2 separate regions of the Homo sapiens genome follow, and region 1 is linked to region 2. Evidence: fine-mapped expression QTL. Tissue or cell type: whole blood. Region 2 holds a variant in brackets; the other region holds the start of a gene. All regions are shown on one strand. Distances are from middle to middle.

Evidence for each region. PIP is the estimated chance that this variant, and not a neighbour inherited with it, causes the effect.
Region 1: it holds the start of SDSL, and the variant in region 2 is fine-mapped to the expression of SDSL in whole blood (TOPMed, PIP 0.97).

Annotation. Positions count from the first base shown.
Region 1 is chr12:113,419,065-113,427,164 of GRCh38, reverse strand. SDSL (serine dehydratase like) reads right to left here and starts at 4,785. Exons shown (of 8, transcript NM_001304993.2): 1 at 4,688-4,785.
Region 2 is chr12:113,391,998-113,400,097 of GRCh38, reverse strand. It overlaps SDS (serine dehydratase), which reads left to right. Exons shown (of 8, transcript NM_006843.3): 2 at 388-542; 3 at 947-986; 4 at 1,252-1,391; 5 at 1,492-1,583; 6 at 2,706-2,933; 7 at 6,082-6,206; 8 at 6,949-7,653. The coding sequence starts at 390. The coding sequence ends at 7,157. Among named protein-coding and RNA genes, the nearest start is that of SDS, 7.8 kb to the left of the region's middle. RefSeq lists an enhancer at 6,685-6,884. The variant C/T (reference allele first, on the strand shown) is at 4,796.

The sequences.
Region 1 (8,100 bases), 27 kb before region 2:
TGCACTCCAGCCTGGGTGACAGATCGAGACTCCGTCTCAAAAACAAACAAACAAACAAAAACCCTTCAGCTTCAGCAATCAACTCATGGTCTAACTCGCTCCCCTATCGGTGCCCACTCCCCCTTCCTGTGTCATTATTTACCCCTTAATTACTATTATTCTTTTATATTATTTCACCTGTAAATATTTCAGCATGTCTCTCTGGAGGTAAAGAACTTGTGTTTTTGAGACAGAGTCTCACTCTGTCACCCAGGCTGGAGTGCAGTACTGTAATCACAGCTCTCTGCAGCCTCGACCTCTCAGGCTCAAGCAGTCCTCCCACCTCAGCCTCCTGAGTAGCTGGGACTACAGGCACACATCACCACGTCTGGCTAATTTTTGTACTTTTTTGTAGAGATAGGGTCTCACTATGTTGCCCAGGCTGGTCTCAAACTCCTAGGCTCAAGGGATCCTCCTGCCCCAGCCTCCCAAACTGCTGGGATTACAGGCGCGAGTCACTGCATCTGGCCTAAGAACTCCTTTTTTATATGTAACCATATGGTTTCATGACTGTACATACATTTGTTCAAACACATTGAATTCTATACTTAAAGTGGGCTAATTTTATTTTATGTAAATTATACCTCACTGAGGCTAATTTTTTTAAAAATGTAATCACAATACTATGATCACATCTAAAAATATAATTTTTTCATATCATCAAATATCTGTTAATTGTTCACATTTCAAATCATCCCATTAAATATGATCAGTGGCTGATTCTGTGGTTGGTTGTGGTTTGGGGTTTTTCACGGTTTGAATCAGGATGCAAATCAGATCCGTGCATTTTGATTGGCTGAGGGGTCTTTTAACTCTGCCTCCATCTGTACGTTCTTGAAAGGGGAACTTTGAAATGGATGACAGGAAGAGAGCCAAGAGGAAAAGTTCCTACAGAGAACAGCAGCCAGGACCACCTCGAGGGAGAAATGCACTTTGGGGTGCCGCGGATGCAGACAGAAGGGGTTTGGGGCAGGAGGTGAGGGTAGGGGGTGAGGGCGGAGATGTGGACAAGGGTGCCAGCAGGGGGTTCCCGCCCACGGAGAGGAGTTTGGTTGTTATTCAAATTCTACCTGCAATGGAAAGCCATTGGGAGGTGGTGGTGGAGGTGGTGGTGGTGTTGGTGGTGGTCGTGGTGTTTTGAAAGGGAGTCTCGCTCTTGCCCAGGCTGGAGTGCAGTGGTGCAATCTCTGCTCACTGCACCCTCTGCCTCCCGGGTTCAAGCGATTCTCCTGCCTCAGCCTCCCGAGTAACTGGGACCACAGGCACACGTCACCACGCCTGATTAATTTTTTGTATTTTTTGTAGAGACGGGGTTTCACCATGTTGGCTGGTCTCAAACTCCTGAGCTCAAGTGATCTGCCCACCTCGGCCTCCCGAAGTGCTGGGACTACATCCGTGAGCCACCGCGCTCAGCCCTTTGAGAGGTTTGAAGCCGAGGAGCTGTGTGTGAATGGACCAGTGGGTAAGGACGAAAAGAAGAGATGGAGGAAATGAGAGGGAGGAAAAATAGTAGAGAAAAAAAAAGGAAAAAATACAGCCAGCTCCTCTTGTCCCAGGCAGAAAAGCACTGGGCCGGTCCCCACCATTCCATTATTGGCCGCTAGGGGGGGCGCTGCAACTTCCCCTGCCCACTCACAAACCTAACCTTCTTGTCCACCCTTAAGTCATGGCTGGGGTTCCAAGATCAGAGAGATCAGGGTCTCTTGGCCCTGAGTTTGACCCCACGCCCTTGTCAGAATAGCCTTGAGAATCCTCAGGGCCCCCTCGGGCAGGGCACAGCCTGAGCCACCTCTTCCCAGTCCCACCCAGGGCACCTCTCAGCTTCGGGCATCAGGGGAAAGAAGCCCATGGGTCATCACTGATCCCCAAATGCCGCATACCCCAGCCTAGGCCTCAGCTCAACCCTGGACCCCAAGAGCACAGGCTTTGGGGTCGACCAGAAGCAAAAGTTAGAAACCAGCTCCGACTTCCTGGCTGTGTGACCCAAACAAGTGTCACAACCTCTCTGTGCCTGTTTCCCCTTCTCTAAAATGGGGATAAAAACAGTCCCCAACTCACAGGTTGTGGTGTAAGTTAATAAGAATAACATTGGCCAGGTGCAGTGGCTCATGCCTATAATCCCAGCACTTTGGGAGGCTGAGGCGGGTGGATCCCTTGAGGTCAGGAGTTCAAGACCAGCGTGGCCAACATGGTGAAACCCCGTCTCTACTAAAAATACAAAAATTAGCCGGGTGTGGTGGTGCACACCTGTAGTCCCAGCTACTTGGGAGGCTGAGGTGGGAGAATTGCTTGAACCTGGGAGGTGGAGATTGCAGTGAGCCAAGATCTCACCACTGTTCTCCAGCCTGGGCAACAGAGTGAGACTGTCTTTAAAAAAAAAAAAAGAGAGAGAGAGAGAATAACATCTGTCATTTGTTGAGTCCCTATTATGTGCCAGTCATCAGCTGAGTCCTCTGGAGACGTTATCTCACTGATACCTTGTGTCATGCTTTGAGCATGGTGACCTGCTTACCCTTACTTTAGCATGTTTACAGGGCACCTACAAGATGCAGGCCCTGACCTAGCAACAGGGGATACCACTGTGGACAAGATAGACATCAACCTTGGAGCTGAATTATAGCCTGATGAGATGGGCACTTAACAAATAACTGCATAGACAAACAAAATAATCAGAAATGTTGAAAACTTCTAAGAGGGAAACACGCATATAGGGAGTCCTAAAGAGAAGAACAAGGGGACCTACTTTGGGTATGGAGGTCAGGAAAGACCTCTTAGAGGAAGTGACCATTAAAACTAAGAACTGAGACAGGGCGCGGTGGCTCATGCCTGTAATCCCAGCACTTTGTGAGGCAGAGGCAGGCGGATCACCTGAGGTCAAGAGTTCAAGACCAGTCTGGCCAACATGGAGAAACCCCGTCTCTACTAAAAATACAAAATTAGCCGGGCATGGTGGCGCATGCCTGTAATCCCAGCTACTCGGGAGGCTGAGGCAGGAGAATTGCTTGAACCTGAGAGGCGAGGTTGCGGTGAGGCGAGGTTGCAGTGAGCCGAGATCGCGCCATTGCACTCCAGCCTAGAGAGTAAGAGGGAAACTCTGTCTCAAAAAAAATAATAAAAAATTAAAAATTAGACCCGAAAAATGAGAACCAACCAACCACACAACAAACTGCAAGAAGAGCGTGTACATGGCAGGACTATTGTGAGGATTCAATGAGCCTGCATGGTAAGGGCACCCATGTTGGGTGTCTGTCCACTTGGAATTGGGTCTCTCTTCCTTTTTGGTGAAATCCCCAGATTTTTCCCCTGGGGATCCTGGGATTGTCAGGATGAACTCCCCCTACTCCATAATCCTTCCGCTTTCTTGTTTTTTTGGTGTTTGTTTTAGAGACAAGGTCTCACTCTGTTGCCTGGGCTGGAGTGCAGTGGCACGATCATGGCTCACTGTAACCTTGAAGTCCCGGGCTCAAGCAATCCTCCCACCTCAGCTTCCTGAGTAGCTGGAACTGTAGACATGCACCACTGTATCCGGCTGATATTTTAATTTTTATAGAGATGCAGTTTTGCTGAGTTGTCCAGGCTGGTCTTGAACTCCTGGCCTCAGGTAAATCTCTTGTCTCTGCCTCTCAAAACACTAGGATAACAGGTGTGAGCCACCTGTTGGCTCACAACAGATGAGTCATTAACTCACCATTGACTCCATTTTATAAACAGTGAACCTGAGGTCCAGAGAGATTAAGTAACTTATCCAAGTTCACACAGTTAGAAACAGCATAGCCAGAATTCACACCAGGCAGTGTCTTTGGCATCTGTGCTATTAACCGCGATGCTATACTTTCTCTAATATACTAGTGTTATCGTTACTATTATGAAAGCTGCATGCATTTAATATTTATTGCCAATTGTCCTTTGGAACCAAATGCTCCTGGCTCAGTTTCCAGGCTTCCCCAGCCCTCTTGGTTATACTGACTCACAAGAGGACAGCAGGCATCAGTTAAATGAAAAAGCCCCAAGTTGCCAACAGCCTTATCAACCCCAGACCCCATCAGGCACCTGAGGTCTGGGACTGAGCTGTCTTGGCCCAGGGACACACACCTCTTGTCCCGTATGGCAGCCACCAGGGCTGAAATGGGGGACCTGGGTCTCCCTGCTGTGGAATAACCCAGGGGAAAGCAGGGGGCTCAGGCTCAGGTCCCAGTCATGCCAACCTTGGCCAAGTCACTTTTGTCACTGGGCCTTACCTGTCACATCTATGAGTTGAGGTAAGGACCACCAGTGCTGTCCACCTCACTTGTCCCCAAAGCCTTTCCCCAGAGGCCACCTTGGTGGCACTCCACAGCCAAATCCCTGGTGCCAGGGCTGGGACACCTCGGGCTGGCCCCTTGGCTGGCAGAATGCCCAACCCTGCCCCTCTGGCAGGCAGAACCCACTCTCGCCCTTCAGGGTCCCCAGCACAACACTTTCTTCTGCAGGGCACCCTGAATTCAATCGACATTCCCAGGAGGGCCTAGAACACGCTCAGGCCCTCTCACTCCCACCTGCTCAGCTTGGACTTTGCCCAAAGCCTCCCAAACTCCTGCAGCCTCTCATCAGCCTCTCATTCACACACACACTGAGCCCCAGGGGCCCCAGCTGGCCCCAGACCCCTTACCTCCCTGCCCAACTATCCCAGACCAGCGTGGCCCCAGCTCCTGCCCTCCAGCCTGCCAGGGAACCAGCTCTTTCCAGGAACCGGCTCTGTCCAGCTTCAGGCAGCTTCCGGCAACCTTGGTCCCTCCTCCTTTGTTAAAGAGAAAGCTCCAGACCCTAAGCCTCCGGGTGAAGACGGAGGAGGAGAGGGGATGAGAGCAACCCTCACCGCTTTCCCGGGCACTGCCTATGACTCATGCACCACCCTGTCTCATTTGACAGATGAGCAAACTGAAACTCAGAAAAGGGAACTTATTTGGCCAAAGCTTCCCAGACAGCAAGGGGCAGAGACAGCCTTTACCCCTGGCCCTGGGCCATCTCTTCCGGGATGCAGGCATCTCCATGTCTTCTCATTTTAGGTCTAGTGATTGTCCCGGATGCTGAACCACTGTTGGGGTCAGCTTAGGTCTGGGATGGGAAAACAAGGACAAGGGAACTTTTTTTTTTTGAGACACAGTTTCATTCTTGTCCCCCAGGCTGGAGTGCAATGGTGCGATCTCGGCTCACTGTTACCTCCGCCTCCTGGATTCAAGCGATTCTCCCACTTCAGCCTCCCAAGTAGCCAGGTTTACAGGCACCCACCACCACGCCAGCTAATTTTTGTATTTTTAGTAGGGACAGGGTTTGACCATGTTGGCCAGGCCAGTCTCGAACTCCTGTCCTCAGGTGATCTGCTTGCCTCTGCCTCCCAAAGTGCTGGGATTACAGGCGTGAGCCACTGCACCTGGCCAAGGAAACAATTATTATAATTATTATTTGTGACATGGGAAAGGTATATTTTTGTCTGAAGCACCTCTCCGTCTCGGATATTTTACACGCAGCATGAGAACCCAAGCAATTATTTGCTACTCAGATGAATGACTGACCATTCATTCATTCATTAAATGTTTATTGGACACCTACTATGTGCCAATCCCTGGAACTTTGGCCTCAAACAAAATAGCATGTCCTCTGCCTTCACAAAGCCCTTAGAGAGGGCCATTAGAGAGCACTTATTAGTGCTATCAGATGTTAGCAGCTGGCAGGGTGGGGCAGGGCTGTGGAACCCAGAGCAGGCACCCCGCCTGGCCCTGGGGGGCTGGGGAGGCTTCCTGGAGGAGGGGAAGTCTGAGTGGAGCCAGGAGTCAGGCACAGGGAGTGCAAAGGTCTGGAAATGAAAAACATGATATATTCCAGGGTCAGGGTAGTATCCAGTGGGGCTGGGAGGGAGAAGGCAGGGGTGGGGAAGCAAGTGGGGTTGAGGCTGGAGATGTGGGCAGAGATCAGAGTCCACAGGGATGCCTGTACCAATCCAGAGTTTGGACCTTACCCAGGGGCACTAGGGAGCCACAGAAGGCTTTAGGTGGGGGGAATGACATGGTCAAATTCATGTCTTGTCTCTGCACCATCTCACTGGGTGAACCTGAGCAGCTCGTGCCCATCTCTGGGCCTCAGTTTCCCTATGTGGAAAGTGGGAACAGGAAGACCTGGCATCACAGATGTTGTGTGTCCTTCTTGGGCTGTTTCTGATCTCCCCAGGTTTGATGATTAACTCCCAGCCACTTGGGGTTAGATGGAGCTGCTTGGCCGTGATCCTTAATGTGGACTCTGGCAAGTTTCTACCCATCCTCGCTTTAGACACACATCCATCCTTGTTGGGTGCCTTGTCCTGGACTGGGTACTGGGGACACAGAGGTGATAAAATCCAGTTTGTGCCTTGAAGTGGCCCCCAGCATGGAGGGGAGAGGAAGACACCCAATTCGGTAGCAACAATAACACTTCCTAAGATGACAGAGGGCAGAAAGTCCCCATAGGGTAGCTGGGGATGGGGCAAGATCAGGGAGGGCTTCTTGAAGTAGGCAGAGACTCAGCACACAGCTCAGACTTTGACAAGAAGCAGACTAGCTGCATTTAGTGCATGTCTACTGTACACCAACACGTGCATGCTGTCCAGCGTAACCCACACTGTTTATTTGTTTGTTTGTTTGTTTGTTTGTTTGTTTTACAAACGAGGTCTCACTGTGCTGCCCAGGCTGATCTTGAACTCCTGACCTCAAGCAATCCTCCTACCTTAGCCTCCCAAAATGCTCGGATTACAGGCAACAGCCACTGCGCCCAGCCCCCAAAGGTTTTTTAATAGTTGGCAATCTATTTCTGTGTGCATTAGGAAAGATGTGTGTATGTATGTAGGTATATATATATGTGTATACATATGTATGTGTATGTACATATAAAATATCAGACCCATAGTTTCATGGATATGATGGCTTAGGAAGAAGCTAAGGTAGGTATTAAAGTTTAAAAATGGAGCCTCTTTAAAAAATATATTAATTGGCCAGGCATGGTGGCTCATGCCTGTAATCCCAGCACTTTGGGATGCCGAGGCAGCTGGATCACCTGAGGTCAGGAGTTTGAGCGTGGCCAATGTAGTGAAACCCCATCACTACTAAAAATACAAAAAGCTAGCTGGACATGGTGGTGGGCGCCTGTAATCTCAGCTACTCGGGAGGCTGAGACAGGAGAATCACTTGAACCGGGGAAGTGGAGTTTGCAGTGAGCCGAGGTCGTGCTATTGCACTCCAGCCTGGGCAACAAGAGCGAAATTCCGTCTTAAAAAACATATATAAATATATATATGTGTGTGTGTATATATATGTTTATAAATATATATATTTGTATATAATATATATTTATATAAATATATATACTTGTATATAATATATATATTTGTATACAAATATACATGTTTGTATACAAATATATATGTATATAAATATATATATTTGTATATAAATATGTATATGTATATAAATATATATTTGTATATTATATATATTTGTATATAAATATATATATATTTGTATATAATATATATATTTGTATATAAATTATTAGTAGCAATAATAGTAGTAGTAGTTTCTGGCATGAACAAGCAGCATGCCTAGTAGTTAAAACACAGACCTGCAGCCAGGCTCTGATACAAATACTTGTTCTGCCACTTTCTCACTGTGTGACCCTGTGACCTTTTGTAAGTCACTTAACCTCTCTGTGCCTTGTTCCCTCAAATGTAAGATGGGGATAAAACACTACTTCCCTAGTACAGTGGATGTGAGGATCAAATGCATTAATGCAGGAAAATATTAGGACAGTAGTTAGTGCTCTGTGTTCGCTGCTGTTGCTTTTGCTTTATTTTGTTTTGTTTTTTGAGACAGAGTCTCACCATTCACTCTGTCGCCCAGGCTGGAGTGCAATGGCGCGATCTTGGCTCACTGCAAACTCTGCCTCACGGGTTCAAGGGATTCTCCTGCCTCAGCCTCCTAAGTAGCTGGGATTACAGGCTTGCACCACCACGCCTGGCTGATTTTTGTATTTTTAGTAGAGACAGGGTTTCACCAT
Region 2 (8,100 bases):
CTGGTCTCGAACTTCTGACCTTGTGATCCACCAGCCTTGGCCTCCCAAAGTGCTGGTATTACATGCATAAGCCACTGTGCCCGGCCTCACCTCATGCATTTTGAAAGCTCCAAGGTTTGAGTGTTCTCTCTTCAGCCTCCCAGCAAATGTGTGAGAGGTCAGGAGTGGAGGGTGATCCCTGATAGAGCTGAGGCCAAGGCGTGATTACCTGTCTGATGTCACATGGTGAGTAGGTGGCCCACTTGCGATTAGAGCCCAGGTCTCCAGGATGCTCTCTCGTCTGAGGCCTTGCTTGGCTTGCTGGGAAGCGAAGGAAGGGATCACTCTGGCAGTGCTGGCACCGGGGCTAGCTCTCCTAACCCTCTGGGTTTCCTTCCTTTCTCCCAGGAATGATGTCTGGAGAACCCCTGCACGTGAAGACCCCCATCCGTGACAGCATGGCCCTGTCCAAAATGGCCGGCACCAGCGTCTACCTCAAGATGGACAGTGCCCAGCCCTCCGGCTCCTTCAAGATCCGGGGCATTGGGCACTTCTGCAAGAGGGTACGGGACCGGGTCAGCATTATCTGGGCAGGGGTGGCAGGTCCTCCTTCCTCAACAGGGCAGGGCCAGTGCTGTGTGAAATTAAAGGCGTTGTAGGATAAGCCTACTGACTCCCCGCAAGGACTGAGCGTCCACCATTAGGGCTTCCTCTGTTTGAGGGGTGCCCTTCCAGGAGGGTTCCTTGGGACTGATCCCAGAGCCATCAGTCGCCTATTTTCCTCCACCCTTTCCTGAGCCAGTCTCTTTGGAGATGGGAGGTGCAGTCTCAGACAAGGGTAGAACAAATTCTGAGTGAAGGAAACGTCCGTGTCCACTGGAATCCTGGCAGGTATTCCAGGTGGGGAGGAAGAGCACAGGCAATGACTGGGAGGTGGGCCTGAGTGCCTCTCCTGTTGTCTCCACAGTGGGCCAAGCAAGGCTGTGCACATTTTGTCTGCTCCTCGGGTAAGTGATCTGCTTCCCCATCCTGTCCTCTGCTGTGTGTCCTGGGATCAGACACTCTGCTTCTCTGAGCCCTGGTTTCCCCAGCAATGTGCCACTGAAAACAATGGCAGCAGCCACCAATTTGGAATTCCAGGGGGAGGCCAGCAGTCGCCCAGGGTGGGGAGGTGAGGGGGGAACTCCAGAGCCCCCAGTAGAGGGTACGCAGTCCTGCCTGGGCTCCCAGATGCTCCCGCACTGACACGCTCTCCACCCCCGACCCTGGCAGCGGGCAACGCAGGCATGGCGGCTGCATATGCGGCCAGGCAACTCGGCGTCCCCGCCACCATCGTGGTGCCCAGCACCACACCTGCTCTCACCATTGAGCGCCTCAAGAATGAAGGTGCCACAGTCAAGGTGGTGGGTGAGGTGAGTGCCGACCCAGGGCAAGGAAGAGAGAGGGCGCCTGGTGGCTGGACAGGGTGCCCCCTGTGCCTCACCCCCTCCTATCTCCCCTGTGGCTTTGCAGTTATTGGATGAAGCCTTCGAGCTGGCCAAGGCCCTAGCGAAGAACAACCCGGGTTGGGTCTACATTCCCCCCTTTGATGACCCCCTCATCTGGTATGTGGAGTTCAAGGTCACTTGGTGGGGGTGGCAGCCACTGCCCTATATCACTGGGCAGGCATTGCTATGATGCACATCATCACGTCCTCATGCACAGCAGCTGCACATGTGTGCGCACACCACCATGTAGAAGCACACTTAGGCGGGGCACAGTGGCTCACGCCTGTAATCCCAGCACTTTGGGAGGCCAAGGTGGGAGGATCACTTGAGGTCAGGTGTTTGAGACCAGTCTGGCCAACATGGGGAAACCCCATCTCTACTAAAAATACAAAAATTACCTGTACTTGGTGACACACGCCTGTAATCCCAGCTCCTAGGGAGACTAAGGCAGGAGAATCGCTTGAACCCAGGAGGTGGAAGTTGCAGTGAGCCATGATCACGCCACTGCACTCCAGCCTGGGCAAGAGAGTGAGACTCCATCTCAAAAAAAAAAACAAAAAAAAAAAAAAAGAAGAAACACACGTTACACCCAGGTGCAGCAGCAAGTGCACACATGTCACCAAATGCCCATTATCCACGGCTGCACATGCAACACACCCAAGGCTGAACATGCAAGCACACAGATGCCCAAGTGTCTGCAGTTGAGTCCTCCTGGAAGCAGACTTGGGGACAAAGGTTTCAGGGAAAGGAGTTTATTTGGGAGGTGATTCAGTGGGGGAGTGGGGAAGTAAGCCAGGGAAGGAAGGGGGCTTTGCTGTTTCTTTTTTCTTTTTCTATCATCCAGTCCAAAATGTCAGGAAGGGGGCTTTCAAAGGCAGGTGGCCGCTGTGGGTGGCTAGAGCTTAATCCCTCGGGGACCCTGGGAGCCAGTGCAGAAGGCGCACAGCAGTTTCCCGCCCCCTGGGAGAAGGAGCAGGGGAGTTTGTACACCGACTCGTAGCCATTGGTTGAGGGCTGCCTTAAGGGGCTGCCATCTCCTGACTCTGTTTGCAGGTAGCTCAGGTGGCCAGAGAAGGTCCTCAGGCAGAGACACAGATGCTGGCAGCTAGAAGCCAAGGTTGGGGGTGGGGAGGGAACTAGCTCCAGGCCCCATCAGCTGGGATAAGGCCGGTGCAAACCTGAGCTGGTGTCTCCAGGAAGCCTAGCCCTGACCTGCCACCCCCTCTCCCCACCCTCCAGGGAAGGCCACGCTTCCATCGTGAAAGAGCTGAAGGAGACACTGTGGGAAAAGCCGGGGGCCATCGCGCTGTCAGTGGGCGGCGGGGGCCTGCTGTGTGGAGTGGTCCAGGGGCTGCAGGAGGTGGGCTGGGGGGACGTGCCTGTCATCGCCATGGAGACTTTTGGTGCCCACAGCTTCCACGCTGCCACCACCGCAGGCAAACTTGTCTCCCTGCCCAAGATCACCAGGTGAGCAGCTGGGGTGCCTCCCTCGGGTGTCCAGCAAGCACTGGGGAGTCCCCCTTAGGGCTGGCTTTGAGATAGATCCTGATGTCAGCCTGTTTCACAGATGAGACAATGGAGGCTTTGATCGCTTGCCCAGGGCCACGTCCAGTGAGTGGTACAGCTTGGACTCAAACCCAAGTCTGTGTGACTCCAACATGTCACACTTCCTCACGTGAAAAGCCTCATATGAGGCTGGGCACAGTGACTTGTGCCTGTAATCCCAGCACTTTGGGTGGCTGAGGCAGGAAGATCACTTGAGGCCAGGAGTTCAAGACCAGCCTGAGCAACATAGAGAGATTCCCACCTCTAAAAAAAGTTTTTTGTTTTTTTTTTAAATTAACTGGGCGTGGTAGCACACACGCATAGTCCCAGGCTAAGGTGGGAAGGATTGCTTAAGCCCAGGAGACTGAGGCTGTAGTGAGCCATGATCATGCCAGTGCACTCCAGCCTGGGTGACAGAGCAAGACCCTGTCTAGAAACAAAGAAAAAGGAAGGAAGGGAGAGAGGGAGGGAGGGAGGAAGGGAGGGAAGGAAGGAAGGAAGGAAGGAAGGAAGGAAGGAAGGAAGGAAGGAAGGAAGGAAGGGAGAGAGGGAGGGAGGGAGGGAAAGAAGGAAGGAAGGAGAAAGGAAGAGGAAAGAAAGAGAGAGAAAGAAAGAAAAAAGGAGAAAGAGAAAGAGAGAAAGAAAAAGAAAGAGAAAGAAAGAGAGAAAGAAAGAAAAAAGAGAAAGAAAGGAAGAAAGAAAGAAAAAGAGAGAAAGAGAAAGAAAGGAAAGGAAAGGAAAGGAAAAAGGGAGGGAGGGAGGAAGGAAGGAAGGAAGGAAGGTCTCATAGGAATCATTTACTGAGTCCTCTGTGGCAAGGTTTTACATACCTCATTACTTTGCCAACCATTTACTGAGCCCCTATTGTGTGTAAGACACTGGCTGATCTGGGGAGAGAGTGGTGCATAAACACAAGTCTTGCTCCTAAGGAGTTCATATCCAAGCCCCAAACCTTTGATAGTTTGTTTGTTTTTGTCTTTGTTTTTTGAGACAGAGTTTCGCTCTTGTTGCCCAAGCTGGAGTGCAATGGTACAATCTCAGCTCACCGCAACCTCTGCCTCCCAAGTTCAAGCGATTCTCCTGCCTCAGCCTCAGGAGTAGGCGTCTGCCCCAACACTTGGCTAATTTTGTATTTTTAGTAGAAATGGGGTTTTACCGTGTTAGCCAGGCTAGTCTCGAACTCCTCACCTCAGGTGATCTGCCCACCTCAGCCTCCCAAAGTGCTGGGATTACAGGCGTGAGCCACCGCACCCGGCTGGTAGATAGTATTTAATTAGGATTAGGTTTTGACCCCATTACACAGAAGGCCCAAATAACAGTGACTTAAATGAGATTGAACTTTACCATGAAAAGTCAGGGCGCCAGGTCCCTTGAGTTTGTTTCCCCATTATCCTTAGCATGTAGTGTTTCAGTCCAAAATGGTTGCCTGAGTGCCAGCTATCACACCCACATTCCATTTGGCAGGGATGGGGAAGCAAGGGCAGAAGGCTATGCTCCAACCTTCAAAGACAGACACAACACTTCCACTTACCTTTCGTTGGCCTGAACTTAGTCACATGGCCACATCCAGCTGCAAGGGAGGCTGGGAAATGTCTTTACACCAGGTGCCCATAAGTGCAGCTAGAAAAGACACCGGGGCAGACAATAGTCTCCCCTACAGATAGGGAAGACTGAGCCCAGCCAGGTAAGAACTTCTTCCAGATTCCTGAGCCTGGCATCTGGAGCTGCTGTGTCCCACACTGTAGGGACTGAAGACGTCATGGCTGAGCGCCTACTGTAAACCA[C/T]GTGCTGCTGAGGGCTGAGGTGGCTCAGGCCCTCAAGATGCTCCTGGGGAAGGGAGAGGGGGCAGCTGAGCTGGGAATAGAGCTAGTGGTCACCCCAGGAAGCTGGGGACAGCGTCAACACATTGGTTACCAGTGCAGGTCTTGAAGTTATACAGATCCTGCTTGCAGCCCCAGCTCCAGCACTCCCTAGGTGTGTGACCTTGGGCAAGTGACTGTACACTCTCTGCCTCAGTTTCCCCTTTCCAAAATCAAACCAATTAACAACAGCAGAATTCTTGTGTGAATTCAATAATGCTTGTGAAGTGCTTGGCACCTAACACTTTCTCAAGAAGTACTCAGGGCGCTTGTTACTAGCAGGGAGGACTATTTGAGAATTCCACATAGGGCCGTGGGACTCAGTACTCTCCCAGGAGGACTCCTTGGAGGAGGTGGCCTTAATCCTGAGCCTTGAAGGACACAGCAGGATGTGGGCAGGCAGAGTGGTGCTAAGCTTCATGAGGGTTAACCAGGTAGCGGTTGTAACCCGGAGCAAAAGCAGGGAGTCCTAGCAGGGAACAACAAGGGTCCTCTTAGGCATTTGCTCCTGACTTAGTGTTGATCAGAATATGACGCTGTGCCGAGGCAGGAGGATCACTTGAGCCCAGGAGTTCAAGACCAGCCTGGGGTCGGGCATGGTGGCTCATGCCTGTAATCCCAGCACTTTGGAAGGCCGAGGGGGGTGGATCACCTAAGGTCAGGAATTCGAGGCCAGCCTGGTCAACATAGTGAAACCCCATCTCTACTAAAAATACAAAAATTAGCCGGGTGTGGTGGTGGGCACCTGTAGTCCCAGCTACTCGGTAGGCTGAGGCTGGAGAATTGCTTGAACCCGGGAGGCAGAGATTGCAGTGAGCTGAGATCGCACCACTGCACTCCAGCCTGGGCAACAGAGCAAGACTCCGTCTAAAAAAAAAAAAAAACAAAAAAACAACAAAAAAACAAACAAAACAAAAACCCGCCTGGGCAACATAGTGACACTCAGTCTCAAAAAAATTAAAAAAATGATACTAAAGAATATACTATATGATGTCAATTCAAACACTCTGCACCTTATTAGAAGACCCCACTTGGTTTGGGGATCCCTGAGGCTTTTCAGGGTTTTACAGCTGCAGAGGTGATACCTGTCCCCCTGCCCCCAGATGCATTGCCTTCTCTGTCTCACATCCATCTCCTTCTCTCCCTCCCTGCCCCCATCTCTCTCCTGTTTCCCCCACTCCCATCCTCTTCTGGGTTCCCACTTCTCTCAGTGTTGCCAAGGCCCTGGGCGTGAAGACTGTGGGGGCTCAGGCCCTGAAGCTGTTTCAGGAACACCCCATTTTCTCTGAAGTTATCTCGGACCAGGAGGCTGTGGCCGCCATTGAGAAGTTCGTGGGTATGTGCCAGGTCCTCCCATGACCTGACCTGCTGACTCAGGCGCTAAGTGGCTGTCCACTTGGTATGCCACTGGGGATCCCACTCACCCCAAGTTTCCTTCACAGTTCTGTCTTCCACCTCTGCCTAGAATTTTCCATTAATAGAAGATAATACAATGCCGTGTAGAAATAGAAAAGCAAAAGCCACACATAATGGAAAAGTAAATAGAAAAGTAAGCCTGATAACCATAGCAGCAGAAAACAATAAGTGAATATTTAAAATGTTGCTTCTGAGTTTCCTGGCAGCCAGGGTAAAAAAAGGAAAACATGGGGCTCAGAGTTTGATTCATTCAGAGGTGAGTCTGTAACTAGGCTGGACTCTTTCTGGGTTCCGTCTAGGGCAGGGATGGCAAAAAAGAGAGAAAAAAATAGTACCATTTATGCTTCTGTACCTGCTGCACACTTGGCTAATCAACCATGGAACTCTTGCTCAGATGATGCCTCAGAATCCTTCTCAACACAGTGCTCACGCAACCACACTCATTCTATCAGTGTTAGCACTCATGATGAAACCCAGGCCCTGGCTCAGGCTTGGAAGGGCCAATTCAGGCCGATGACGGGACGTTTGGTTCAGGACCTGCGGCTGCAGCCAGGGCTGAGAGCTGATTGGCTCAGTATTCCCAGGTCCTGCCAATGGCCTGTCAGCTCCTGTGCACCCTGGGAAACTCAGGCCACGCCCCTGTCACGCCCCTTCTCTGGCAGATGATGAGAAGATCCTGGTGGAGCCCGCCTGCGGGGCAGCCCTGGCCGCTGTCTATAGCCACGTGATCCAGAAGCTCCAACTGGAGGGGAATCTCCGAACCCCGCTGCCATCCCTCGTGGTCATCGTCTGCGGGGGCAGCAACATCAGCCTGGCCCAGCTGCGGGCGCTCAAGGAACAGCTGGGCATGACAAATAGGTTGCCCAAGTGAGGACGGACCCCTTACCGATCTGTGCTCTCCTAGCCCAAGAGACCCCTGGAGGGGCTGGAGTTTTATCCAGCGCCTCGTCGTATGTTTGGCTGAGCACCTGTGGCCTGGGTGCAGGTTAACTTCTTGTTATCAGGAGCCCACTATGCAGAGGCCAAAGGTCGGCAGCCAGCGAGGCTATGAATTGGACCTTTTTGGTATCTGTGTGACTGCTCTGTGCCCATCCTTAGCCAACTTGCTGGCGTGACAAGTGCCCACAAGTAACACACCAGGTACCCAGAGCAGGGTGGACAGGAGAGACCTGAATCACAGCAGTGAGGAATTCCTCAAAGCTGTGACCTCGCCCCTGAACTTGTTCCCAGTGAAGGTCAACAGGGCCACCAACCAGGGTTGAGGAACCATCTCAGCCATCCTCCCAGGAAGCCCACCCCTGACCCTTACTAATTTTTCTAATGTGCAAACTTTTTCATTGAAAAATAAAATATATTTATGAAACAAAGATCCTGTGCATTTTCCCATCATCAGCTGTCTCCTTTCCTGCTTTCCTTCCACCCCAAGTCTGCTCTCAGCCCCAGCTCTCAACTGGGGCCCCAGAGTGAGGCCAGGAGCCTGACTCCAGCTAGTCTTGCATGCCAGGACAGGGGCATCCCTGTACCACAGGAAGCAGGTGGCTAAACAAGAGGGACTTGGGGTGGGACAAAGGCTGCCTCCGCTGAAGGCAGAAGCAGCTGGGGAGGCCAACTTCATTCTGATATGAAGTCCTTCCTACTAAGTCAGAATTATTTCATCACAGACCCAATGGAAGCAAAGAAGTGAGGCCCCCTCCCCTGGGCGTGTGTGAGCTGACACTGGACACCCATCTCTGGGAGAGGGAAAGGGTGGGTGGACTTGAAGTCAATGTCATGCAAACCCTCCTCAAACATGGAGCCCTCTCTTCCAACAAAAG